7 linked regions of the Homo sapiens genome follow. The protein of the gene in region 3 purifies or fractionates together with the protein of the main gene of each other region. This does not show direct contact. Each region holds a gene or a part of one and is shown on either strand. Other genes may lie near its edges. The genes, in order: ELOVL2, QNG1, NTSR1, MCUR1, TMEM161B, ALG8 and LMBRD2.

Region 1 (3,500 bases), on a different chromosome or scaffold from region 3:
ACGGATGAAAGCTATAACAGAGAAGAGGCCTCAGGTGGATGTAGATTTTAAATTGCTCTCTTTTGTAGGCTGGGGAAATGGAAAGCTTAGTTTAAAAAACAAAGTACATTTATATTCAAAACTATACTTTTGAAATTGTATTCAACTGTATTTTTTTCAGACTAATAAGAAGTGCTTTACTTTTTAGTTTGCACTTGCTGAAAGTTAACCCATAGTGGTTTTTATTTTTATTTATTTTTTTGAAACAGAGTTTTGCTCTTATTGCCCAGGCTGGAGTGCAATGGCGCAGTCTCGGCTCAACACAACCTCTGCTTCCTGGGTTCAAGTGATTCTCCTGCCTCAGCCTCCCAAGTAGCTGGGATTACAGGCGTGTGCCACCACGCCTGGCTAATCTTGTATTTTTAGTAGAGATGGGGTTTCTCCATGTTGTTCAGGCTGGTCTTGAACTCCTGACCTCAGGTGATCCGCCCACCTTGGCCTCCCAGAGTGCTGGGATTACAGGTGTGAACCACCACACACATCCCCATAGTGGTTTTATACAGTGTGGAACAGTGGAAACTGAATTTTGACAGCTTTTCAGGTCTTGTATTTCTGAAATTGGACTAGGCTGTTTTAAGAGATAAAGGTTTCCTTTGAAGATTTCCAAAGAAATAATCAATGATGAGACCAAACAAAGCTATGTGTGGGTGTGCAAACCCCTGCCCCCAACTTCCCAATAAACGCTAAGTGTTAAAGGGAAGCTAAGGGAGTGATTTTGGTACCTCGTGTTGAAGAGAAGCGTATAGCCCAGCAAGAGTAGGTAATGGCATTCAAAGCCTTAGCCCTACATGCTGGTTCAAACTGCATCTTAGTTCTGAAGTCAAGCATATAATTTAAGTTTGGATCCTTGTTAATACTATTGCTTTAAAAAAAAAAAAAGTGAAAATGAGATGCGAGATCAGGTATTTTGTCAGAATAGGAAGGATATGCCAAAAACTAGATCAAGCCAGAATCCCAGGTATTGGTATTTTAAAATAACAGCACTTTTTCCACTTGAATTATTTTTAAAAGTTTTATCTTTCCAAGTGAGCAACTAATGCAGAATACTTTGCCAGCCCCACAATATACAAATCGTGACCTCTAATAGTCATTGAAATACATGCATTTGTTTTGGTCTTTATTTTTAATCTTTAACCAGAAGTTTAAAAATGATACTATAAACATGAAATCTAGGCAGAAATAAAGAAAGATGTTCTTTGAAACCAATAAGAACAAAGATACAACATACCAGAATCTTTGGGACACATTCAAAGCAGTGTGTAGAGGGAAATTTATAGTACTAAATGCCCACAAGAGAAAGCAGGAAAGATCCAAAATTGACACCCTAACATCACAATGAAAAGAACTAGAAGAGCAAGAGCAAACACATTCAAAAGCTAGCAGAAGGCAAGAAATAACTAAAATCAGAGCAGAACTGAAGGAAATAGAGACACAAAAAACCCTTCAAAAAATCAATGAATCCAGGAGCTGGTTTTTTGAAAGGATCAACAAAATTGATAGACTGCTAGCAAGACTAATAAAGAAGAAAAGAGAGAAGAATCAAATAGATGCAATAAAAAATGATAAAGGGATATCACCACCGATCCCACAGAAATACAAACTACCATCAGAGAATACTACAAACACCTCTATGCAAATAAACTGGAAAATCTAGAAGAAATGGATGAATTCCTCGACACATACACCCTCCCAAGACTAAACCAGGAAGAAGCTGAATCTCTGAATAGACCAGTAACAGGCTCTGAAATTGTGGAAATAATCAATAGCTTACCAACCAAAAAGAGTCCAGGACCAGATGGATTCACAGCCGAATTCTACCAGAGGTACAAGGAGGAACTGGTACCATTCCTTCTGAAACCATTCCAATCAACAGAAAAAGAGGGAATCCTCCCTAACTCATTTTATGAGGCCAGCATCATCATGATACCAAAGCCAGGCAGAGACACAACCAAAAAAGAGAATTTTAGACCAATATCCTTGATGAACATTGATGCAAAAATCCTCAATAAAATACTGGCAAACCGAATCCAGCAGCACATCAAAAAGCTTATCCACCATGACCAAGTGGGCTTCATCCCTGGGATGCAAGGCTGGTTCAATATATGCAAATCAATAAATGTAATCCAGCATATAAACAGAACCAAAGACAAAAACCACATGATTATCTCAATAGATGCAGAAAAGGCCTTTGACAAAATTCAACAACCCTTCATGCTAAAAACTCTCAGTAAATTAGGTATTGATGGGACGTATCTCAAAATAATAAGAGCTGTCTATGACAAACCCACAGCCAATATCATACTGAATGGGCAAAAACTGGAAGCATTCCCTTTGAAAACTGGCACAAGACAGGGATGCCCTCTCTCACCACTCTTATTCAACACAGTGTTGGAAGTTCTGGCCAGGGCAATTAGGCAGGAGAAGGAAATAAAGGGTATTCAATTAGGAAAAGAGGAAGTCAAACTGTCCCTGTTTGCAGGTGACATGATTGTATATCTAGAAAACCCCATGTCTCAGCCCAAAATCTCCTTAAGCTGATAAGCAACTTCAGCAAAGTCTCAGGATACAAAATCAATGTACAAAAAATCACAAGCATTCTTATACACCAATAACAGACAAACAGAGAGCCAAATCATGAGTGAACTCCCATTCACAATTGCTTCAAAGAGAATAAGATACCTAGGAATCCAACTTACAAGGGATGTGAAGGACCTCTTCAAGGAGAACTACAAAACACTGCTCAATGAAATAAAAAAGGATACAAACAAATGGAAGAACATTCCATGCTCATGGGTAGGAAGAATCAATATCGTGAAAATGGCCATACTGCCCAAGGTAATTTATAGATTCAATGCCATCCCCATCAAGCTACCAATGACTTTCTTCACAGAATTGGAAAAAACTACTTTAAAGTTCATATGGCACCAAAAAAGAGCCTGCATCGCCAAGTCAATCCTAAGCCAAAAGAACAAAGTTGGAGGCATCACGCTACCTGACTTCAAACTATACTACAAGGCTACAGTAACCAAAACAGCATGGTACTGTTACCAAAACAGAGATATAGATCAATGGAACAGAACAGAGCCCTCAGAAATAATGCTGCGTATCTACAACTATCTGATCTTTGACAAACCTGAGAAAAACAAGCAATGGGGAAAGGATTCCCTATTTAATAAATGGTGCTGGGAAAACTGGCTAGCCATATGTAGAAAGCTGAAACTGGATCCTTCCTTACACCTTATACAAAAATTACTTCAAGATGGATTAAAGACTTAAACGTTAGACCTAAAACCATAAAAACCTAGGCATTACCATTCAGGACATAGGCATGGGCAAGGACTTCATGTCCAAAACACCAAAAGCAATGGCAACAAAAGCCAAAATTGACAAATGGGATCTAATTAAACTAAAGAACTTCTGCACAGCAAAAGAAACGACCATCAGAGTGAACAGGCAACCTA
Region 2 (3,500 bases), on a different chromosome or scaffold from region 3:
TTTCACCACGTGTGCCAGGCTGGTCTTGAACTCCTGACCTTGTGATCCACCTGCCTCGGCCTCCCAAAGTGCAAGGATTACAGGTATGAGCCACCACGCCTGGCCATCTCTATAAAACATTTTCTTGGTAAGCTCATTATGGTTTTAGAAATCAAATGATTTTTGTAATCAAATTCTGGATCTCTAAAATATTAACTGGTATCACTAAAACTACTAGTAAATCTCCAAATAACAATTGCTTACATGTTTCATGATATTGTTTTGTGATTTAAATATTTTCTAAATCGTACCTTTATAAAATAATTGTCAATAAAAAGCTCTATGACCATGAGTTAATTTTTTTCTTTTCTTTTCTTTTTTTTTTTTTTTTTGAGACAGGGCCTCACTGCTGCCTAGGCTGTAGCTCAATTCAGTGGCTCAATCACGGCTCACTGCTGCCTTGACCTCCTTGGGCTCAAGCAATCCTCCCACCTCAGCCTCCTGAATAGCTGGGACTATAGGTGTTCACCACCAAGGCCAGTTAATTTTCTTGTTATTTTGCAGAGATGAGGTTTCCCCATGTTGCCTAGGCTGGTCTTGAACTCCTGGGCTCAAGTGATCCACCCACCTTGGCCTCCCAAGGTTCTAGGATTACAGGAAAGAGCCATCGCACCTGGACAGTTAAGTTTTTTGAAAAAATTATTCCATAATTTTATCATGAATAAATAGAAAGTTCAAGGATTACAAAAGTTAAGAACAACATAGGCCAAGTGCGGTAGCTCATGCCTGTAATCCCAGCACTTTGGGAGGGAGGCCGAGGTGGGCAGATCACCCGAAGTCAGGAGTTCAAGACCAGCCTGGTCAACATGGTGAAACCCTGCCTCTACAAAAATATAAAAATTGACCAGGCATGATGGCGGGTGCCTGTAATCCCAGCTACTCGGGAGCTGAGGTGGGAGAATCGCTTCAACTTGGGAGGCGGAGGTTGCAGTGAACTGAGATTGTGCCATTGCACGCCAGCAAGACTCCATCTCAAAAAACAAAAAACAAAAAACAAAGGCTGGCATGGTGGCTCACGCCTGTAATCCCAACACTTTGGGAGGCCAAGGCGGGTGGATCACCTGAGGTCAGGAGTTCGAGACCAGCCTGGCCAACATGGTAAAACCCCATCTCTACTAATATACAAAAATTAGCCTGGCGTGGTGGTGCGCACCTCTAATCCCAGCTAACTCAGGAGGCTGAGGCAGGAGAATCACTAGAACCCGGGAGGCAGAGGTTGCAGTGAGCCGAGATTGCGCCATTGCACTGCAGCCTGGGTGACAGCGAGACTCTGTCTCAAAAAACAACAACAAAAAAACTAAAAATAAAAAATAAAATGTTATCTATTGAAATATCAAAAAGCTTATGTTTTTTATATTTATCAGTATGTCACAGTAACAGTAATAGTCATAAGAAAGCCAATTTGCTAATTAGAACTTTTACAAAGTTACTGCATTACTCTAAATCAGAGTAACTTGAAGAGCTTAAAAAATAGCTCTTCTTTCACCTATTCATCAGGCTCTTTGAGGGTGGTGTTTTGGAAATATATCTGAATTAAGCCTCCTAAGTGATTCTGGGGCACAGCCAGGTTGGGAAATCACTGATCTAAATCTATCTAAATTAAAAATTGTTAACTTTATTAATCTGTTCATGTCTAAAAATGAATGATAATCTCAGTAAATAGGTATACGTTAAAAACACATGACTAGTTTGTGCAAATTGTTTATTTTTATTTATTTATTTTTTTGGGGACAAGGTCTTGCTCTTCCAGGCTGGAGTAAAGTGGAACTATCAGAGCTCACTGCAGCCTCCACCTCCTGGGCTCAAGCGATCCTCCTGCCTCAGCCTCCTGAGTAGCTAGAACCACAGGCATGCCACCACGCCTGGCTAGTTTTTAAATTTTTTGTAGAAATGGAGTCTCACGTGTTGTCCAGGCTGGTCTCGACCTCCTGGGCTCAAGCAATCCTCTTACCTCAGCCACCCAATGTGTTGGGATTATGGGCTTGAGCCACCATGCCTGGCCCATTTTGGGGATTTTTCTGTAAAACTGTATGTTAGAAACAAGTACTCATGAGAAATGGTTTCTGTACCAATTTTCATTTAAAAATGTATCAGATTAGGTCAGGCGCTGTGGCTCACGCCTGTAATCCCAGAACTTTGGGAGGCCAAGGTGGGTGGATCACAGGGTCAGGAGTTCAAGATCAGCCTGGCCAATATGGTGAAACCCTGTCTCTACTAAAAATACAAAAATTAGGCCAGGTGCGGTGGCTCACGCCTGTAATCCCAGCACTTTTGAGGCTGAGGCGGGCGGATCACCAGGTCAGGAGATCAAGACCATCCTGGCTAACACGGTGAAACCCTGTCTCTACTAAAAATACAAAAAAATTAGCCGCGCGTGGTGGCGGGCACCTGTAGTCCCAGCTACGAGGGAGGCTGAGGCAGGAGAATGGCGTCAACCCAGGAGGCGGAGCTTGCAGTGAGCTGAGATCGCGCCACTGCACTCCAGCCTGGGTGACAGAGCAAGACTCCGTCTGAAAAAAAAAAAAAAAAAACAAAAATTAGCTGTGCGTGGTAGTGGGTGCCTGGAATCCCAGCTACTCGGAGGCAGAGAACCGCTTGAACCTGGGAGGCGGAGGTTGCAGTGAGCAGAGATGGTGTCACCGCACTACAGCCTGGGTGACAGAGTGAGACTCTGTCTCAAAAAAAAAAAAAAAAAGTATCAGATTGGCTGGGCATGGTGGCTCAAGCCTGTAATCCCAGCACTTTGGGAAGCTGAGGTAGGCAGATCACTTGAGGTCAGGAGTTCAAGACCAGCCTGGCCAACATGGTGAAACCCTGTTTCTACTAAAAATACAAAATTAGCTGGGCATGGTGGCGGATGCCTGTAATCCCAGCTACTTGGGAGACTGAGGCAGGAGAATCATTTGAACCCAGGAGGTGGAGGTTGTAGTGAGCCAAGATACTGCCACTTTCTGGTACATTTTTTAAAAATTGAACTTTTCAGCAAAGCAAAACCAAAGCACTGTGCTATAAATGAAATGCAGTTCTTTATAGCAGTGTGAGAACACACTAATACAATTGAATTCTTTTTTTTTTTTTTTCTTGAGATAGAGTCTTGCTCTTGTCGTCCAGGCTGGAGTGCAGTGGCATGATCTCAGCTCACTGCAACCTTCAGCTCCTGGGTTCAAGTGGTTCTCCTGCCTCAGCCTCCTGAGTAGCTGGGATTACAGGCACCCACCACCACACCCGGCTAATTTTTATATTTTTAGTAGAGACGGGGTTTCACCACGTTGGCCAGGCTGGTCTTGAACTCCTGACCTTGTGATCTACCCGCCTTGGCCCCCCAAAGTGCTGGGATTACAGGTGTGAGCCACCACGCCAAGCCAATTTCTTTTATTTTTTCTTTTATTTTTTTGAGATGGAGTCCAGCTCTGTCACCCAGGCTGGAGTGCGGTGGCGTAATCTCGGCTCACTGCAACCTC
Region 3 (4,239 bases):
ACCCCCGCCCCAGCCTGCCCAGGTTTCCTGCTCCCAGCACAGCAGGTGCAGCCAGCCATGTGCACAAAGGCCAGGCTGGTTCCCTGGGCTGCACTCGAGCAGCTCCTCCCAGCCCTGCACACATGGGGCAGCAGCTCTACCCAACCTCTCCCAGGGGTTCTGGGGAGGAGGGAGCAGGGGAGGGGGCGGGGAGGGCCCAGAGAAGGGACAGTAGTGCCCTGGGGGCCCCTGGGCAACCCAGACATGGAGGGGGGGGCAAGCTTGTGCCTGGCCACCTATGCCAGTGCCACCAGGTGCTGGGGGGGACACGGAAAGGACAGGAATCTTGCCCTCACCTGGCTCCCGAGCCAGGGGCCGGGGCACCCTGTGAGGACACTCAGAGGGAGGGAGTGTGCAAAGCCTGCAGGGCCTGGGAGGATGCGTGCTGGGGCTGCCTCTCCCAAATCCTGCTGGGGCGCAGGCTCTCAGGGTGGCTTCTGATGACAAATCCAGGCAGTAATAAGGGGCCCAGGGCATCACATCCCATAGCGTCATGAGACCAGCCCAGGGTGCCAGATGCAGGGCCCTGAGTGGGGAGGGTGCTGCTCTGGGCACCTGCTTTCTGCCCTCCCTCATTCACCCCTCCCCAGACTTTGATGAAACCATCTGTGGCTCCCGGCCTCTGCAGGACCCAGCCCCTCAGCTCCTCAGCCCCTGCAGGTGTCCCTCGGTACTGCCTCACGCCATCCTGCCCCAGGTGATAACTATGCCCTGAGCCCCCACCATTTCCACTGGGCACATCCCAGAAATACGCATTCACAGACCAGGCACGCCCATGACTGCGGCCAGATTTTAAAAGGAATCACCAGAAATGTAATCTCCAGTGGTCCTAGAGCCCCCTGGGCACCCAGCTTCTGGCACCCTGTGGACACCCAGGAGTGGGGGTCGGCCCAACCAGCTGCGCAGCCGCCCAGCCCTGCCAGCGGGGAGCTTCCTCCCTCCCTGCCCTCCGGATACACCCTCACCCCAACTGAGCGAGCCCAGGGTTGGGGGAGGTGCATAGTTCCCTTCCTAGCCGGTGCGAGAAATTGCGGAGAACAGGGAAGAGGGTGGCAGGAAGGGTCTGGTGCACGATACCCGCCGCGCCCGCTCGGAATCCTGGTTCCCTGGAGCGCTCACCCCAGCCCGCCCTGCCCCGGGGAGCGCGAGGGGGCGACCCGCCAGGCTGCACCCGGGCGGGGCGGGGATGGCGGCGGGGGCTGCCTCCCTCCTCCGCCGCCACCCCCCACTGCTGGGCGCGCCGCGCGGCCGCCGGCTCCGTGGAGACGCGCAGAGCCGGGAGGGCGCGGGCGCGGCGGGAGGTGTGCGGGGCTGGGGTGCGCGGAGAGCGCGAGGGAGGAGATTCTGAGCGAGGGAGGGGAGCGCGCCCGGGCAGCAGTGCGTGCGCTCCTCCCGGCGCCACAAGCTCGCCCCGCGCAGCCCGAGCCGGGCTGGGCGCTGTCCTCGGGGGCCTGGGGAACCGCGCGGTTTGGAGATCGGAGGCACCTGGAACCCGTGGCAAGCGCCGAGCCGGGAGACAGCCCGAGGAACCACGGGTTCTGGAGCTAGGAGCCGGAAGCTGGGAGTCCGGAGGAGAGCGGAGCCCGGAGCCCGGAGCCCGGGGCGGCGCGTCTGGGTCTGGCGCTTCCCGACTGGACGGCGCGCCCGCTGGTCTTCGCCACGCGCCCTCCCCTGGGCTCCCGTTCATCGGTCCCCGCCTGAGACGCGCCCACTCCTGCCCGGACTTCCAGCCCCGGAGGCGCCGGACAGAGCCGCGGACTCCAGCGCCCACCATGCGCCTCAACAGCTCCGCGCCGGGAACCCCGGGCACGCCGGCCGCCGACCCCTTCCAGCGGGCGCAGGCCGGACTGGAGGAGGCGCTGCTGGCCCCGGGCTTCGGCAACGCTTCGGGCAACGCGTCGGAGCGCGTCCTGGCGGCACCCAGCAGCGAGCTGGACGTGAACACCGACATCTACTCCAAGGTGCTGGTGACCGCCGTGTACCTGGCGCTCTTCGTGGTGGGCACGGTGGGCAACACGGTGACGGCGTTCACGCTGGCGCGGAAGAAGTCGCTGCAGAGCCTGCAGAGCACGGTGCATTACCACCTGGGCAGCCTGGCGCTGTCCGACCTGCTCACCCTGCTGCTGGCCATGCCCGTGGAGCTGTACAACTTCATCTGGGTGCACCACCCCTGGGCCTTCGGCGACGCCGGCTGCCGCGGCTACTACTTCCTGCGCGACGCCTGCACCTACGCCACGGCCCTCAACGTGGCCAGCCTGAGTGTGGAGCGCTACCTGGCCATCTGCCACCCCTTCAAGGCCAAGACCCTCATGTCCCGAAGCCGCACCAAGAAGTTCATCAGCGCCATCTGGCTCGCCTCGGCCCTGCTGGCGGTGCCTATGCTGTTCACCATGGGCGAGCAGAACCGCAGCGCCGACGGCCAGCACGCCGGCGGCCTGGTGTGCACCCCCACCATCCACACTGCCACCGTCAAGGTCGTCATACAGGTGAGCCTCAGTAACCAGCCCCGGGGCTCCCCTCTCCTTCACCCCAAAAGCAGTGCCAGTGGTGTGCCTTCTGGGTAGGGAGTGGGAGAGATGTCACAGAGACAGTCTACTCCTGCGAGGCTGGGAAGGCGGTTGGGGCAGCTTGGGGGCAGCTCCAGAGTTGCCAGGCTCAGCCCCTATCTTCTTCCCTCCTGTTGAGGGGATGGAGCCCCTGCCTGTGACCTCTCTGGTGTTGGTGGCTGGGCCTCGGACATCTCTGAATTCCTTAAGCCTAATGGAAACATGTGCGCTGGCACCTGCGTCTCCAAAGGAAGAGTAACACTTTCATCAGCTTCTCAAAAGACTGTGCCACCAACAGGTGATGTTCCTTCCTCTGCAGAGAAGCCCCCAGACTGGCTCTGCCGGTGCCTCCCAGCTGCCTGCCCTGACCCAAACTTGGGAGTCAGAACAGAACCTGATGCCGTGTTGGGCCAGTTCCTAGTTTAGCCTCAGCTTTCCCATCTGTGTGATGGGGTAGTGATAGCATTGACCTCAGAAGGTAGAGCATTGGAGAGAGGACGCGTGGGAAGTGTTTGCATGGCCCCTGACACATAGAAGGGCTCACAGGCACTATTATTGCGGGATGGTGGGGACGATGTTTCTGCGGGGAAGGTTGTGAGGATCTGCGTGTGGCGGCGGTGTTGTGGTGAGGTGTGTAAAACTGGAGCCGAGTGACTAAGGGCCCTCCAAGGGTCTGAGCAAAGCGCCGTGGGAATGCGGGTGGGAAGCCCCCTTGGGAATCAGTTTGGCTGAGGTTCGTGGCACGGGGGGTTCCAGTGCTGGAGGGGAGGGCTGATCAAACCAAAGCCCCGAGCAGGAGGCTGGTGTCCAGGGAGGAAGTCAGGGCCGGTCGGGAACTTTGAAAGGCATCTTGGAAATGAGCAGCCTTAGAAGTGTGGGGTTTCCTCCATTTCTGGTGGGCTAAGGAAGCCAGAGGGTGAAGGATCCGGGCAGAGTCGCCTACCTCTGCCCAGCTAGAGGGGCCAGGGTGGCTGGCTGTCCCCCCAACTCCCCACACACCAGCATCGCCAGCCTCCCAGCTAAGCTTCTGTAGTTGCCTGGGCACCCCGCGTATGCCAGTATGCCCGGTGGGGGTGAGGGCAGCAGTGCCGGGCAGGGGGTCACCTGTCTGTCACTCCCTGGGCCCTAACTGACCCTCCACTGGCCACCACCCAGGTGGGCTGGGGGGTGGAGGAGGGTAGAACTGAGCTCCCAGTCTCCCTGGCTGCACATAGAACTGGTGGCTACAGGTGTCCCATCTCGGGGAGGCCCCTCCCACAGACACTGGTGGCAGGCAGTGAGTCAGGGCTGCTTTGCTTCTGCGGCGAGAGTCCCTCCCCTCACCAGAGGCAGAAGTAGGCACGGCCTGTGGGGTAAACACAGTGAGAAATGACCTCTCCCTCCCTTTGAGGCTTTATCTGCTCTCCCCAAGCTCCTGTCTTTGATTGGCATTGGCCAGGGGGAACCTCTCCCCAGTCCGCGTGGAGGGGCCCCAGGGGCGACAGCCACTCAGTCCTTCAGAAGGTGGGCAGTGGAGGGGTCAGCGCTGTCACTGCCCACCCAGGAGATGCCCCCACTCAGACCCCGGATCCCCCCACTCAGACCCCCGATCCCCCCGCTCAGATCCCCGATCCCCCCGCTCAGAACCCCGATCCCCCTGCTCCCCTGGCAAAAG
Region 4 (3,500 bases), on a different chromosome or scaffold from region 3:
GTTCACACCTTAGCCTCCCGAGTAGCTGGGACTACAGGCGCCCGCCACCACGCCCGCCTAATGTTTTAATTTTTTAGTAGAGACGGGGTTTCACCGTGTTGGCCAGGCTGGTCTCGAACTCCTGACCTCAGGTAATCCACCTGCCTCAGCCTCCCAAAGTGCTGGAATTACAGGTGTGAGCCACCGCACCCAGCCAACAATCTGGTATTCTTAAGGCAAAACAGTAGAAATCACTTTAAATAGACACTTTATTAGATCCACAGGCGATAAAATCCCAGAGCTACTGTTAGGCACGTAAATATAGACCCTGTAAGAAAAAAACAATTGAGAGTACTATTAGTTCTATTAAGAGTTACTTGAGGGAACATCTTTTTTTAAGAAAACCTAAAAAAGAAAACCTAGAAACTTAGATTGCTCACTGATGTCCCATATTCCGTGAAACGCCTGCCTACTGAAAAAACAAATCCCACACCCTTTATTTTATTTTCTTATTTTAGAGACATGGTCTCATCTGGTACCCAGGAGGAGTGCACCATGCAATGGTATGATTACAGCTCACTGTGCCTCAAACTCCCGGGCTCAAGTGACCCTCCTGCCTCAGCCTCCCAAGAAGCTGAAGCTACAGGCAGATGACACCATGCCCGGCTAAATCTTTTTGTAGAGACTAGGTCTCGCTGTGTTGCCTAGGCTAAGAAAACTTTTCAATAAAAGTTTCGAATAGCAAAAATTCTGTGGTCACAAGGTCTATGTATATGCACTATAGAGACAGGAAGACACAATTTAATATAAAGAACAACATTTCACTGTTAAATAATGCTGTAACCTTAAAATATTTAATTAATCCAAGACGTTAAATCTGACTTGAAATAATGGTTAATTTGGGTGGGGGGTGGTACATGAATGTTCATTCTCTCTTTTGGATCAAAAATCGCGAAAGTAAAATAACTCCTTAAAAGGAGTTTAAGCAATTGAAGCAGAAAGATTACAACTGAAACACCTTCCATTTTATCCATAAAATATTTCCTGTCTTGAATCTCATTAAAATCCCTAATAACTATAGTTCAATTATAGTATCTTATCAAATTTCCAATTCTATCAATTATAACGTACACAATTACTTTATTTACTACTAAGAAAGAAAAAGTGCCAATTAAACTATGATACTTCATCTACTGGAAATTGTAAGATGCTTTCCAATTTCAGAGATGTTAAAATATTTCAGAAAGTGTTGGAATCAATGAAATGCAGTATCTGTCAACGACTTATTTTATAAATTTATTTTCTTTTCAGGTTGATTTAAATAGATACAAAATAGCTTACCTGCTAAATATTTAATATTATCAAGCTTGTGTGACTCAAGCATGGTTTTGAGGCCAGCAACCTCAGTTTCGATCTTCCTGTCTGTCTGGGTAAGGGCCCGATCTTGCTGGGCATGCTTTTAAAATGAAGAGAGTCACAGCGTTAGACCACAGCACGTCCCCTCTGCTCACCATCCTATAGCTCCTTCCCAACGGGGTGCAGTCACAGGGAAACCTGGGTAAGACTATGGAGGCCTGGGCTTTAGTCTCAGTTCTAAAACCCTAATTCTACGCTGCATTGGTCAGGACCCTTAACCTCTCTAGGCCTTAGTTTTCTTCTATTTGAAAAAATGAAAACAGAACAAAACGAAACAACCAAGCCAGTGGCCCTGCCTTTACCTGGACTGTTTAGAGAATCAAATGCGATAATCTATGTGAAAAAGCATTTGTAAGCTCTAGGTTGCTATACAAATGATGTGGTATTATGAGGCCAGTCTGTTCTCAAAGGCAACGGCTACGTCTCATCCTTCTAAATCCTCCTTAGTCAAAGATAGACAGTAAACTCAAAAATGTTTTCAAGAAATGGAGTCTTAGATAATGTGAAAGCGGCAGTGCTTGTCTTGAGCTATTTCTAGTCATATTTTTAAAAAACTTTCTTCTTTCATGTTCAAATATCAAGTGTTTCATTACTATGAGGCTTGGCTACCCACGGCCAATTTGTGTCCTTCCCCAAATACAATACAGTTAAACTGGACACATAATCAACCCTCAAAAAGGCAGTGGGTTTGGCCGACGCTATAGGGGGTTGTAGAACTGCATTAAAGCATAAAAACCATGGGAATCCTTCACTAAAACTCCTACAGCAACTAAATCTTTCCCTATGGCTACCAATTCAGGCAGAGAAAAAAAGAAATAAATGCCTGGATGCGTAAAAAAGTATTCCAGAGAAATATCCCAGGATTCTGGAATTCTCTCATGAAAGCCTCTTGGGGGTTTCAGAGGTCCCAGGTTCCATACAGTATGGAAAAGGAGAAATGTATGCTATAAATTAAAAATAGAATAAGACTTCTCCATTCCTCACTATTCTTCAATTACTGAGATTTAAACTTTCTTAATAAAACTTCCGTTAAGAAAAACAAACTCTCAAGTAGGGCATGGTGGTGTGAGCCTGTGGTCCCAGCTACTCTACAGGCTGAGGTGAAGGAGGGTGCAGTGAGCTGAGATTGAGCCACTGCACTCCAGCCTGGGTGACAGAGCGAGACCCCACCTCAAAAAAAAAAAAAAAAAAAAAGAAAGAAGAAAAGGAAACTTTCATTAAGAAAGTTTAAATCTTTCATAGGATAACTATCTTCCATTACGATAACCAAACACTTTGTGAAGTGCAAAAAATCCTGTGACACTCCACTTCTGCATATATACCCAAAAGAACTGAAAGCAGGGATCCCAACAGACATCTGTGCACCCATGCCCACAGCAGCACTATTCACAAAGGCCAACGGGTGGAAGCAACACAAGTGCCCTTGACAGACGAATAAAGAAAATGTGGCATATACATATAATGGAATACTAATCAGCCTTAAAAAGGAAGAAAGTCCTGTCATTTCAACAACATGGATGAACCTTCAGGACACTGTGTTAAGTGAAATAAGCCAGCCACAAAAAGACAAATGCTATGATTCTATTTATATGAGGTATGTAGAATAGTCAAATCCATAGACAGTAGAATGGAGGTCACCAGAGGCTGGAAAAGGGAATGTATAAAGGGTGCAGAGTTTCAATTTTGCAAAATAAAGAGTTCTGTGATAGCCAGTGGCGATGGTTGCCCCAAAATGTGAATGTACTTTAAATGTACTGAACTGTACACTTAAAAAATGGTTAAGATCCTAATTTTTATGTTGTGTGTATTTTAGCACAATGTAAAAAATTCCCATGACAGTAAACCTGCATGTAACTTCCTATTATCATTACAAACAACCATGCATGGAACGAAGCAAAGATGAGTACAAAGACAAAGAAAAATCACAGTCTTGTTTCTTACCAATGCCACTATTTCTGTTCTCAATTCCAGCAGCTTCTTTTCGTTCAATGAATACTGAAATAAACACGTAACATGGGTCAGATTCTGATCTACTCCTCTCTCTTCTCCTTCTCTGGTGCCTTAAATATTCTGGTCTCAGTACCTCCTAGAATACGTAACACCAG
Region 5 (3,500 bases), on a different chromosome or scaffold from region 3:
TACTAATTTAAAACAGCTATTTATAGTAAATACTGCTTTATTAAAAATAGAAAAGGTTAAATTTAAATAATGCTTAATTTTTCAAAAACTTACTGAGATTCTAAACCTTGCTTTTCAAGAAACTGCATCGCACTGTCTGAAAAATTTGTAAACCCTGTGGGGGAAAAAAAAAAAAACAACAGATTACTCTTATCACAAATGTGAAATACAGAATCTTTCCATGGAAATAAAATGTTAGAAAACAGAGCATCTTAAATTTTGAAGTGACTAGCTTAGCTCTTTCATGTGTTAATTAGTATGCCATAATGCAATAAAATTTGGTTATTAGCAGGAACAGTCTTTGAAAACGTCCCTTTGATATTTGTACATTCCATGAGTGTGCATAAAATTTGCATTAATTCTTCAACTATAAGAGTAAACTTTAGCATTACAGAAACTTATTTAACTGTAAGGAAAAAAACGAGACAGTATTTTTGGAAAAAAACATTAATTAAAAACTTAGCTAAAACAAAAGCAAAAAATGAAGATCTTAATAATAAAGGTTAATTATTTTGAACATTACAGAGTATACACTTTAAATTTAATTTTAGATATTTATCAGACATAAAACTTAAATACTGAAGTCAAAAATATTAACACTAGATAAAGCAAAATTGATTTTTAAAGTTGTATGAAACTATTACCTGTTTCAAGTCCAAATTCCAGATAATTTTCTGTTACAATCAACACTGCCATTGCTTTGACAAAGAAAAAAAATCCAAAGGTGACACAAACAGATCTTTCACCACCATCTTCTACTTTAAAATAGTGTGTAGTTAATGAAAATAGAACTTTGCTGCAGAAGGAAAAGTTCAGGAAAAACCACAATAAATTTATAGGAGCTATACACAATGATCTTTATAGGACTTGATTGCAATAAAATTTGACTACAACATTTATTTCCAAGTGGAGTTTAAAACACTTTTAAATTAAGGAAAAGAGCACCCATATACTAAGTTGTAGCTAGGGAATGTATTTCTAGTTTATCTCACTCAAATTTTACTAGAAGGTTATTTCAAGATTTTTATGCAGTATGTTCTCAGTGACATGAAAAGCCAGGGTAGAGGTTATTCTAGAGAACTGTCTTTATTAGGCATGTCTGTTAAACCAGTTTACATTTATAATTAAACACATAACACAGGAATCCTCCGTAATAATTCAACAAGTTAAAATTTGAGAATTTTACTAGTAGCTATTGTTGATCTGTGGTATGAAAACTAAGTGTCTGGGGTCACCACTTCACATTAGTAATAAGAAAAAATCTTTAGAGAAAACAAGTTCCAACTGAGTATTCAAAAACAGCAAAAGTTTCAACATGTTCACCTATTAAAATAGGCTGAAGAGATTATCTTATCTGAACCACCCCAACACACACAAATTGATTTAATCAAGGTTAAATCAGTGCATGGCCCAAAGATAGAACTCAGATTTCCATTATACACCAAATTGTTCTCCTTGAAATCGCAAAACAAACTAAGGTGCTTGGCAAACAAACCTAGAAAAGTAACCTTTACGTAAAGTTTATGTCAAGCATGGAAAATTAACAGCTATCACTTAGTACTTGCCATATGCCGGGCATTACCAATTAACTTTTAATTCTCACACTAACCACATTATTATTGCTACTTTACAGACATTTTAAAAAACTTAAACAAACAAACAAACAAACAAAAAACAACTGTGGGCCGGGCGCAGTGGCTCACGTCTGTAATCCCAGCACTTTGGGAGGTCTAAGCCGGCGGATCACCTGAAGTCAGGAGTATGAGACCAGCCTGGCCAACACGGCGAAACCCCGTCTCTACTTAAAATACAAAAATTGCCGGGCGTGGTGGCTCACGCCTGTGATCCCAGCACCTTGGGAGGCCGAGGCGGCTGGATCACGAGGTCAGGAGATCGAGACCATGCTGGCTAACATGATGAAACCCCGTCTCTACTAAAAATACAAAAACTAGCTGGGCATGGGGGCGGGCGCCTGTAGTCATAGCTACTAGGGAGGCTGTGGCAGCAGAATGGCGTGAACCCGGGAGGCGGAGCTTGCAGTGAGCTGAGATCGCGCCACTGCACTCCAGCCTGGGTGACACAGTGAGACTCCGTCTCCAAAAAAAAAATTAGCCGGGCATGGTGGCACACGCCTGCAATCCCAGGTACTCGGGAGGCTGAGGCAGGAGAATCGCTTGAACCTGGGAGGCGGAGGTTGCAGTGAGCCGAGATAGCACCACTGCACTCCAGTCTGGGCAACAAGAGTGAAACTCCGTCTCAGGAAAACAAAAAACAAACAACAGCAGCAACAAAAAAACAACAACTGTGGCAGAGAGGTAAAAGTAAAAATATCAAAATCACAGCTAGATTAGAGAAAGTTGAGATTTAAAACTAGACAGTCTGGATCTAGAATCTGTGCACGTAACTATTGATTACATTGCCTCTAAAACACTGTACATAGCACCTAAGTCAATGTGGTACTTTTAGCAGTAACACATAAAATCTTTTCAAAACAGAACTGCCCTGACAGAAGTAAAGAATTAAAACATTCTCATAATCAGAAGAATCCTTTCATATATATCTCACACACATAGTCTGAAGGTAATTTTATACAACATATTTAATAATTTTGTGCATGAAAAAAATTTTGACTGCATTTTAACTGCAATCTCTCACATGAGGCCCAGTGTAAAGTCTTCTACTTCTGGTGTTATGTCAGTACTGGAAAAGTTTTGGATTTTGGAGCATTTCGGATTTTGGATTGTAATGCTCAACCTGTATCAAACAATACAGGTCCATCCATCTCTTTCTTGGCATTATAAGGAAGAGCTTACATATTAGAAGAGGACAAAGAAAGATGAATATAGTCAAACTGCAAAACTACAACTGAACTGCTTTTAAGATACAGCTATGATCTCTCATAGCCTAAATGCCTTAAACTCAGGTTTGAAAAACACTGCTTTATTTTTACTGAAAATGTTTACTAGAATCTATAAGGAGACAATTTCCAACTTCTTTTCTTACACTGAAAAACAAAATAGTATCTTTGGCCAAAAGTGGTACCAAATCATCAGAATAAAATTTCCCAAAAATTACACCTACCACCACACTTTGTTATCCTAGAATAATGAAATTACAAAATATGTCAACACTAAAGGAAAACAAAATTACATGCAATCTGATCCAGACATGAAGCATGATCTTGCACTTATCACTAATACTTTACAGTCCCACACCACAAATGCCTAAAATGGTATAATCACTGCATCCTCACTTCATATTGCATACTGGATAAATCTTAAAAACCTAATTATTTATTGAGTTCCACATTAGAACACCATCTCCCAATAACCCGTATGTAATACTATGATCTGGCCACACTCACATGTTCAAGCTTTCATTCAATAGTCCCCAAATCTCCACCTCAATCAGAATAGTGTACTTGCCATCTCCTGAGTGTCATCACTACACTGTCTTGGATC
Region 6 (4,044 bases), on a different chromosome or scaffold from region 3:
AGGGAGGTGACACTGTCACCTACTTGCTGTGCATCTTTCAGCAAGATAATTAACTGATCTGACACATTATTGAGCATTTATTCTGTCCTGGAATCATATCAAGCAATTTACATGCATTCTCATTTAATCCTCACAACCAGTTTATGAGGCTGAAACTTTTTTTTTTTTAGACCAAAAGCATCTTGGATAAACAGGCCTGAGGCTTGCCCAGGCTGAAGTGCAATGGCGCGATCTCAGCTCACTGCAACCTCCGCCTCCCACGTTCACGCGATTCTCTAGCTTCAGCCTCCCGAGTAGGTGGAATTACAAGCGCCCGCCACCATGCACGGCTAATTTTTTTTTAATTTTTAGTAGAGACAGGGTTTCACCATATTGGCCAGGCTGATCTCAAACTCCTGAACTCAGGTGATTCGCCCACCTCGGCCTCCCAGTGTTGGGATTACAGGCGTGAGCCACCGCGTCCGGCCAGAAACCATTTTTATCTCCTATTTTCAAAAATAAATAAATAAATAAAAATTTTAAAAAAAGAAACTGAGGTTTAGAGTTTAGTTTGTCCAAGATCATACAGTAAAATAATGAGACAAGCCTAATTAAATTGCATGTGCCTCAGTCATTACGCAATCTGCGAGTTTGTTGGGCCTACTGAATCAGAATCCGAATTATTTTAACATGAACCGTAGGCTATTTGTACACTAAGCGTTAGGACTAGCCTCTACCCTGCTTCCAGAATGGGTTCCGCTCAAGCAGGAGGTGAGCCAAGAGCCTCGCTCAGAGTTCTAAAAACACAATGTTTCTCACCTCTGTATCTTTGCACATGCCATTCTCTAGCTGGATTTAATACTCCGGTGCAAGCGTCCAGGTTGGGAGCCCCCGCAGTTCTCTGAGGTACTTTTATCTACTGTAACTCTAGGGCAACAATCCTGGCTTCTCCACTAGTGCGTGAACGTCTCTAGCGTTAAGTTTTTTTCTCACCTAAGTATCCCCAATACTACACAGTGATGACCCAGCGCAAACGACCACTCTTTCAACGCAAGCATGAACTAGCTGATAAAACTTAAAAGTGGCTACAAACGCCTGCGCAGGAGCCCTTCCGGCCCGGGGTGAGACGCGGGTCTAAAGAAAAGGTGGGCGGGAGGTTTAAATAGCTGACTGCAGTCCCCGGACTGGCTGCGCCGCTCGCCGCATGCGCGCAGCTAGCGGGCACGGCTTCAGAGGGCTTTCTCCGCATGCGCGGGATCCCGGATGTGGATCAAGTTGGTGGGAAGCGTGCGGTGCCGCAGCAATGGCGGCGCTCACAATTGCCACGGGTACTGGCAATTGGTTTTCGGCTTTGGCGCTCGGGGTGACTCTTCTCAAATGCCTTCTCATCCCCACATAGTAAGGGACTCGCACGGCCAGGGGCTGGGCGGGGAGGCCCCGCGGTCGGTCAGGGCGGGAGAGAAAGGTGTGGATATCCCTGGGTATGAAGAGAAAACTTTAGGTCGTGTTTGTCGCTATCCTGCCTTTGCTAAGCTTTCTGTTTCGCCAGTTGTTACTTGACTTAGCCCCAGCTGGCTAGGTTCAGACCTGGCGCTGTCTGATTTGGAACAAATCACTTTAACGTTTCTGAACCTCAGGGTCCTCATCCTTAATAGGCAGTTAAGAACCTCTGCCTCCAACAGCCATTCAGCCAGTATTATCAGATGCCTGAGGTGCCAGGTACCGTTCTAACTCCCGGGAGATGCGGTGGTGAGCAAGACATTGCTGGTCCTTGCCCTCGAAGTTGGTGGGTGGAGCTAGACAAACAGGAACTTTTCAGATTGTGATAAAGGAAATAGAGGGTTACTAAGTGGCTGTGCGCTATTCCTTTAGAAGGTGATGTTTGAGTTGAAATTCAAAAAATGAAAAAGAATAAGTGATGTGGAAAGCAGTTCAGGCATAGGAAAGAGTAAGTTCAAAGGCCCTGTGGCAGGAAAGAAGTCAGAGCATTCTAGGAACAGAAAGTGCCCCTTGTGGCTGCAGAGCATTGAGGGAGAGGAGTGGCACAGCATGGGGTGCACTGGGGACAGATAACACAGGGTTTCGAAGACCACAGTTAGACTGCTGTGTAAAAAATGGATGTAGGGCCAAGACTGAAAGCGTGGAAACCAAGAAGCAACCATGAAATGGTGGTGTGTATACAGTAGGTACTCAGTATTTATTAATATTGGCTTCCGCCTTCCCTTCATCCTTCCTCTTTTTTCTTTTTCTCCCTCATCCCTTTTCTCCTTTCCCTCCCACTTCCTAGTTTAGGGTTTGTTTTATTGGTATCCTTTGATTCAGGCTCTTGGTGATCTCTTGTTGAATATGGGAGAGTCATATGTATAGAATGTAAGTCCATACTGATGCGTATATGTAATCATGTAAGTGGAATGTATATGTAGATTCAGTAAAATGATTAACTGTAGGTCTGTGCATAAGATTATTTCTTGCTTTAGTTGCCTCAGGCTAGAAATGTATCCTCAGAGTTGTTTTTTTTGTTTGTTATTTTTTTTTTTTTTGAGACAGTCTCGTCCCACTCTGTCACCCAGGCTGGAGTACAGTGGCACGATCTCAGCTTACTGCAACCTCTGCCTCCCGGGTTCAAACGATTCTCCTGCCTCAGCCTCCGGAGTAGCTGGGATTACAGGCTTGCACCACCGCGCCAGGCTAATTTTTGTATTTTTAGTAGAGATGGGGTTTCACCATGATGGCGGAGGGCTGATCTCAAATCTCCTGACCTCAAGTGATCCACCTGCCTCGGCCTCCCATAATGTTGGGATTACAGGCATGAGCCACCGTGCCTGGCCAGAGTTGTTATTTTGAATACTGCTCTTGGTCCAGGTTAAGAATGTATATAGCGCTCACTTTGGCAGCACATGTACAGGAATACCTCATTTTTTGTACTTTGCTTTATTGCACTTCACAGATACTGCATTTTCATTTTTTTTACAAATTGAAGGCTGCGGTAACTCTCCATTGAGCAACTCTATCAATGCCATTTTTCTAACATCATGTGCTCATTTTGTGTCTGTGTTACATTTTGGTAAATCTTGAAATATTTCACACTTTTTCATTGCTATTATATTTGTTATGATCTGTAATCAGTGATCTTTGATACTACTATTCTGATTGCTTTGGGGCAACACTATGGTGAACTTAATAAATGCTGTGTGTTCTGACTGCTCTATCAACCAGCTGTTCCATCATCTCTCTCCCTCTCCTCAGGCCTTGCTGTTGACTGAGATACAATAATAAAGTTAGGCCAATTAATAGCCCTACAGTGGCATCTAAGTGTTCAAGTGAGAGGAAGAGTCACATATCTCTGACTTTAAATCAAAAGCTAGAAATGATTGAGCTTGATGAGGAAGGCATCCTGAAAGCCAAGACGGGCTGAAAGCTAGGCCCATTGTGCCAAACAGCCAAGTTGTGAGTGCAGAGGAAAAGTTCTTGAAGGAAACTAAAAGTGCTACTCCAGTGAATACACAAGTGATAAGAAAGTGAAACAACCTTGATGATATGGAGAATGTTTTAGTGGTCTGGATAGATCAAACCAGCCATAACATTCCCTTAAGCCAAAACCTTATCCAGAGCAAGGCCCTAAGTCTTCAATTCTTTGAAGCCTAAGAGAGGTGAGGAAGTTGCAGAAGAAAATTTGGAAGCTAGCAGAGGTTCTTTTAAGAAAAGAAGCCATCGGCCGGACGCGGTGGCTCATGCCTGTGATCCCAGCACTTCGGTAGGCCAAGACGGGCGGATCACCTGAGGACCAACATGGAGAAATCTCGTCTCTACTAAAAATACAAAATTAGCTGGGCGTGGTGGAGCATGCCTGTGATCCCAGGTACTTGGGAGGCTGAGGCAGGAGAATCACTTGAACCCGGGAGGTGGAGGTTGCAGTGAGCTGAGATCGCGCTATTGCACTCCAGCCTGGGCAACAAGAGTGAAACTCTGTCTCAAAAAAAAAAAAAGGAAGAAAAGAAGCCATCTCCATAATAAAGTACAAGGTGAAGCAGCAAGTGCTGATGTAGAAGCTGCAGTAAGTTTTCT
Region 7 (3,500 bases), on a different chromosome or scaffold from region 3:
GTGAGAGGATTTCTTGAGCCCGGGAAGTTGAGGCTGCAGTGAGCCATGTTCATGCCACCACACTCCAGCCTGGGTGACAGAGCAAGATTCTGCCTCCAAAAAAAACAGAAAGAAAAAAAAAATCTCAGATTTCTGCACTATCTTGCAACTTTTCATCTCTCCTCAAATACAGTTATTAATTTCTATAGTGTGGGTAAAATAATGAAGCACATTTCTGGAAGTTTGAATAACAACACTGCAGAAAACCTCACTGCTTTCATTTTTACTAGAAGAAATACATGGAGAAAATAGTTAAGGATTATACTATGAAGTGACATCTATTTATGACAGACATAAAATAAACTGACCTCGATATAAATATAATTATATGTTTTTTCTGCCAGCTGTATGAAGACCGCAAAGAGGGATAAGACAGGAGTAGTGCTAAAGAATGTGCACTCTGACCACACAACAATCACAGAGAAGATGGACAGAACCACAGCAAGTATCTTGTAAAACCATGGTCGCAAAAGACATTCCCAGTACCATTCTAGAAGACAAAAGAAAAAAATGATTAGGAAAACTACAAAAGAGTAATGGGATATTTACATTGTTTCAAAATAGCTCCTAATAAGATACTTAATTACAAAGAGAAAAACAGCAATTTTACAGTGGAGAATCCAGGCAGATACGAACCTAACCAAATGACACCCATGATGGGACAAACTGACATCATGTGCCTCCTGCTATGATGTACTGATAGGAATGTGACATTGCTGCTGTGGTAGTCCTGTGAAAAATGCAGAACTTGCGTCTAATTTTAAAGAAACATCAAAGTCAAATTCAGGGACATTCAACAAAAAACTGGCCTATACTCCCCAAAACATTTCTGATATATCATAAAACACAAAGACTGAGAAACTGTGTCAGATTAGAGGAAACTAAGGAGACACAACAACTGAATGCGATGCATGATCTGGGATTTTTTACAAAAAATATTATTGGGATAATTATAGCAAAATCTGAATAAGGTCTGTAAATAATGGTAGAGTATAAATATTAATTTTTTTATTTTGATGGCTGTATTTGGCTATGTAAGAAAATATCTTTATTTTTAGAAAATATACACGGAAACATTTAGGAACAAGGAGGCATCATGTCTGGATACAACTCTAAAATAGTAATAAAAAAATACATACAGAAAAAGCAAATCAATATGGCAAAATATTAACATTGGAGAGCCTGGTTGAAGGGTATATGGGAATATTTTGTACTGTTTTGGTTTTTTGTTTTTTTTTTTTTGAGATGGAGTCTCGCTCTGTCGCCCAGGCTGGAGTGCAGTGGCATGATCTCGGCTCACTGCAACCTCTGCCTCCGGGGTTTAAGTGATTCTCCTGCCTCAGCCTCCCAAGTAACTGGAATTACAGGCGTGTGCCACCACTCCCATCTAATTTTCTGTATTTTTATTAGACACGTGCCACCATGCCCAGCTAATTTTTTGTATTTTTAGTAGAGACAGGGTTTCACCGTGTTAGCCAGGATGGTCTCAATCTCCTGACCCCATGATCCACCCACCTCGGCCTCACAAAGTGTTGGGGTTACAGGTGTGAGGCACCACTCCCAGCACTATTTTGGTTTTAAGTCTGAATTTAGGTATAAATAAAAATTTAAAAAAGAAAGCTCAATAAATTAAAAAGCTATATTTTTAGTTCATTTACTGAATAGTTAGCTTCTGGTTCACTGTAATTCTTTACAACTTTCCTCTCATAATTCCTAGTGATTTCAATATCCACATAAATGATTCCCCTTTCAATACCCTTATCTCTCATTTCTTTGACCTCCTCTCCTCTAATGAACTTTCCCTCCACCCTACCTCAATTACTTGTTGCTATAGTGATGCCTAAACCTTTTATTATCAATATCTCCAGCCCTTCCATATAATCACATTCCAGCATCCTTGTCTTCAAACAATACCTTCATCTAGTACAGTATTTCAACTCCACTAACTGACCATACCTGGATGAAAAATCAATTTATTCTATCACATTTTACCGTTATTTAACACTTTGATACCCTTCCTTCCTCATGCAGCTCAGATTCCAGTCTTTGAGGACAGTATCCCACTTACTTTGCCCCATTTTGCTCCACTGTACCTGCTAAGCTAAATCACACCTGTTTAAATCCAACTCGCTGGCTACTCTCAGCCTGCATCCACACAGCTGCACATTGCAGGAGAAAGACACCCCACCTTGTTGACTGGCCTCACTTTAAATTCTTAATCACTAGCTTCAAGTGGGTCCTCAGTACTGCCTCACTAGCCTACTATAATTCCCCAATCTTCTCCCATGCCACTCTCCTAGGCAACTATTTTGCACCTTCTCTTCCCTCCTCAAATCTCTAAAATCTCCTCTCCTATACTTACTCTCCACATTTCATTGAGAAAACAGAAGCGATCAGAGAATTTTCCCAAGTTTCTAACACTACACCTTCTCAGCTAGTTACATCTGTGCCTTACCTCCACCATTCTCTTCATTGTTCACTATTTCCCACCATCTCATCTCTACTAGTCATGAACATTGTCTTAGAAATTCTCTATTGTCTTATCAAATTCTATGAATTTTTTCTTTTCTTTCTCTTTCTTTCTTTCTCTCTTTCTTTCTTTTTGTCTTTCTTTTCTTTCATCTCTCTCTCTCTTTATTTCTTTTTTTTTTTTGACGGAGTCTCATTCTGTCCCCAGGCTGGAGTGTAGTGGTGCAATCTTGGCTCACTGCAACCTCTGCCTCCCGGGTTCAAGCGATTCTCCTGCCTCAGTCTCCCAAGTAGCTGGGACTACAGGTAGGCTGGAGTGCAGTGGCGCAATCTCGGCTCACTGCAACCTCCACCTCCTGGGTTCAAGTGATTCTCCTGCCTCAGCCTCCCGAGTAGCTGGGACTACAGGTAGGCTGGAGTGCAGTGGCACAATCTCGGCTCACTGCAACCTCCGCCTCCTGTTCAAGTGATTCTCCTGCCTCAGCCTCCCGAGTAGCTGGGACTACAGGCACGCACCACCACGCCCAGCTAATTTTTGTATTTTTAGTAGAGACGGGGTTTCACCATGTTGGCCAGGATGGTCTCAATCTCTTGACCTTGTGATCTGCCCGCCTCGGCCTCCCAAAGTGCTGGGATTACAGGTGTGAGCCACCGCGCCTGGCCTCAAATTCTATTATATCATTTACTAATTACATGTGATAATTTCTCTTGACTATGCCCCCAATCCTCTTTCAGCTACTACCCCTTTTCTCTGTTCCCTTTTATAAGGAAAACATTTTTAGAGTTTTCTAGTCTGTCTCCAATTGCTCCTCTTCTTATTTCTTTTAAATTACAGTCAGACTTTTTTATCCTCTCCCCTCACTTCTCTAAAATCCAATGGTCAGGTCTTAATATATATGATCCTTAATCTATGTGCAACATTTGAAAAGGTACTTTATATACTCTTTTCCTCAAAACACTTCATTGTCCTAATTTTCCTATCTCACTGGCCC

Evidence for each region.
Region 1: the proteins of NTSR1 (region 3) and ELOVL2 purify together in Homo sapiens (affinity purification with mass spectrometry; one large-scale study listed by BioGRID and IntAct). This does not show direct contact.
Region 2: the proteins of NTSR1 (region 3) and QNG1 purify together in Homo sapiens (affinity purification with mass spectrometry; one large-scale study listed by BioGRID and IntAct). This does not show direct contact.
Region 4: the proteins of NTSR1 (region 3) and MCUR1 purify together in Homo sapiens (affinity purification with mass spectrometry; one large-scale study listed by BioGRID and IntAct). This does not show direct contact.
Region 5: the proteins of NTSR1 (region 3) and TMEM161B purify together in Homo sapiens (affinity purification with mass spectrometry; one large-scale study listed by BioGRID and IntAct). This does not show direct contact.
Region 6: the proteins of NTSR1 (region 3) and ALG8 purify together in Homo sapiens (affinity purification with mass spectrometry; one large-scale study listed by BioGRID and IntAct). This does not show direct contact.
Region 7: the proteins of NTSR1 (region 3) and LMBRD2 purify together in Homo sapiens (affinity purification with mass spectrometry; one large-scale study listed by BioGRID and IntAct). This does not show direct contact.

What each region holds. Positions count from the first base shown.
Region 1 is NC_000006.12:10,985,306-10,988,805, reverse strand, and holds part of ELOVL2 (very long chain fatty acid elongase 2), read left to right. Parts: intron 1-3,500.
Region 2 is NC_000009.12:83,950,243-83,953,742, forward strand, and holds part of QNG1 (queuosine 5'-phosphate N-glycosylase/hydrolase), read right to left. Parts: exon of another isoform or gene 3,410-3,500; intron 1-3,409.
Region 3 is NC_000020.11:62,707,397-62,711,635, forward strand, and holds the start of NTSR1 (neurotensin receptor type 1), read left to right. Parts: upstream 1-1,439; 5' UTR 1,440-1,811; coding exon 1,812-2,525; intron 2,526-4,239. UniProt on the Homo sapiens protein: G-protein coupled receptor for the tridecapeptide neurotensin (NTS). Signaling is effected via G proteins that activate a phosphatidylinositol-calcium second messenger system.
Region 4 is NC_000006.12:13,790,558-13,794,057, forward strand, and holds part of MCUR1 (mitochondrial calcium uniporter regulator 1), read right to left. Parts: intron 3,482-3,500; exon of another isoform or gene 3,391-3,481; coding exon 3,337-3,390; intron 1,436-3,336; coding exon 1,321-1,435; intron 308-1,320; coding exon 252-307; 3' UTR 1-251. UniProt on the Homo sapiens protein: Key regulator of mitochondrial calcium uniporter (MCU) required for calcium entry into mitochondrion. Plays a direct role in uniporter-mediated calcium uptake via a direct interaction with MCU.
Region 5 is NC_000005.10:88,206,346-88,209,845, forward strand, and holds part of TMEM161B (transmembrane protein 161B), read right to left. Parts: intron 836-3,500; coding exon 684-835; intron 155-683; coding exon 94-154; intron 1-93. UniProt on the Homo sapiens protein: Essential for maintaining normal cardiac rhythm in the developing heart and for neonatal survival.
Region 6 is NC_000011.10:78,136,827-78,140,870, reverse strand, and holds the start of ALG8 (dolichyl pyrophosphate Glc1Man9GlcNAc2 alpha-1,3-glucosyltransferase), read left to right. Parts: upstream 1-1,244; 5' UTR 1,245-1,282; coding exon 1,283-1,377; exon of another isoform or gene 1,378-2,093; coding exon of another isoform or gene 2,094-2,161; intron 2,162-4,044.
Region 7 is NC_000005.10:36,117,388-36,120,887, forward strand, and holds part of LMBRD2 (G-protein coupled receptor-associated protein LMBRD2), read right to left. Parts: intron 530-3,500; coding exon 348-529; intron 1-347. UniProt on the Homo sapiens protein: Recruited to ligand-activated beta-2 adrenergic receptor/ADRB2, it negatively regulates the adrenergic receptor signaling pathway. May also regulate other G-protein coupled receptors including type-1 angiotensin II receptor/AGTR1.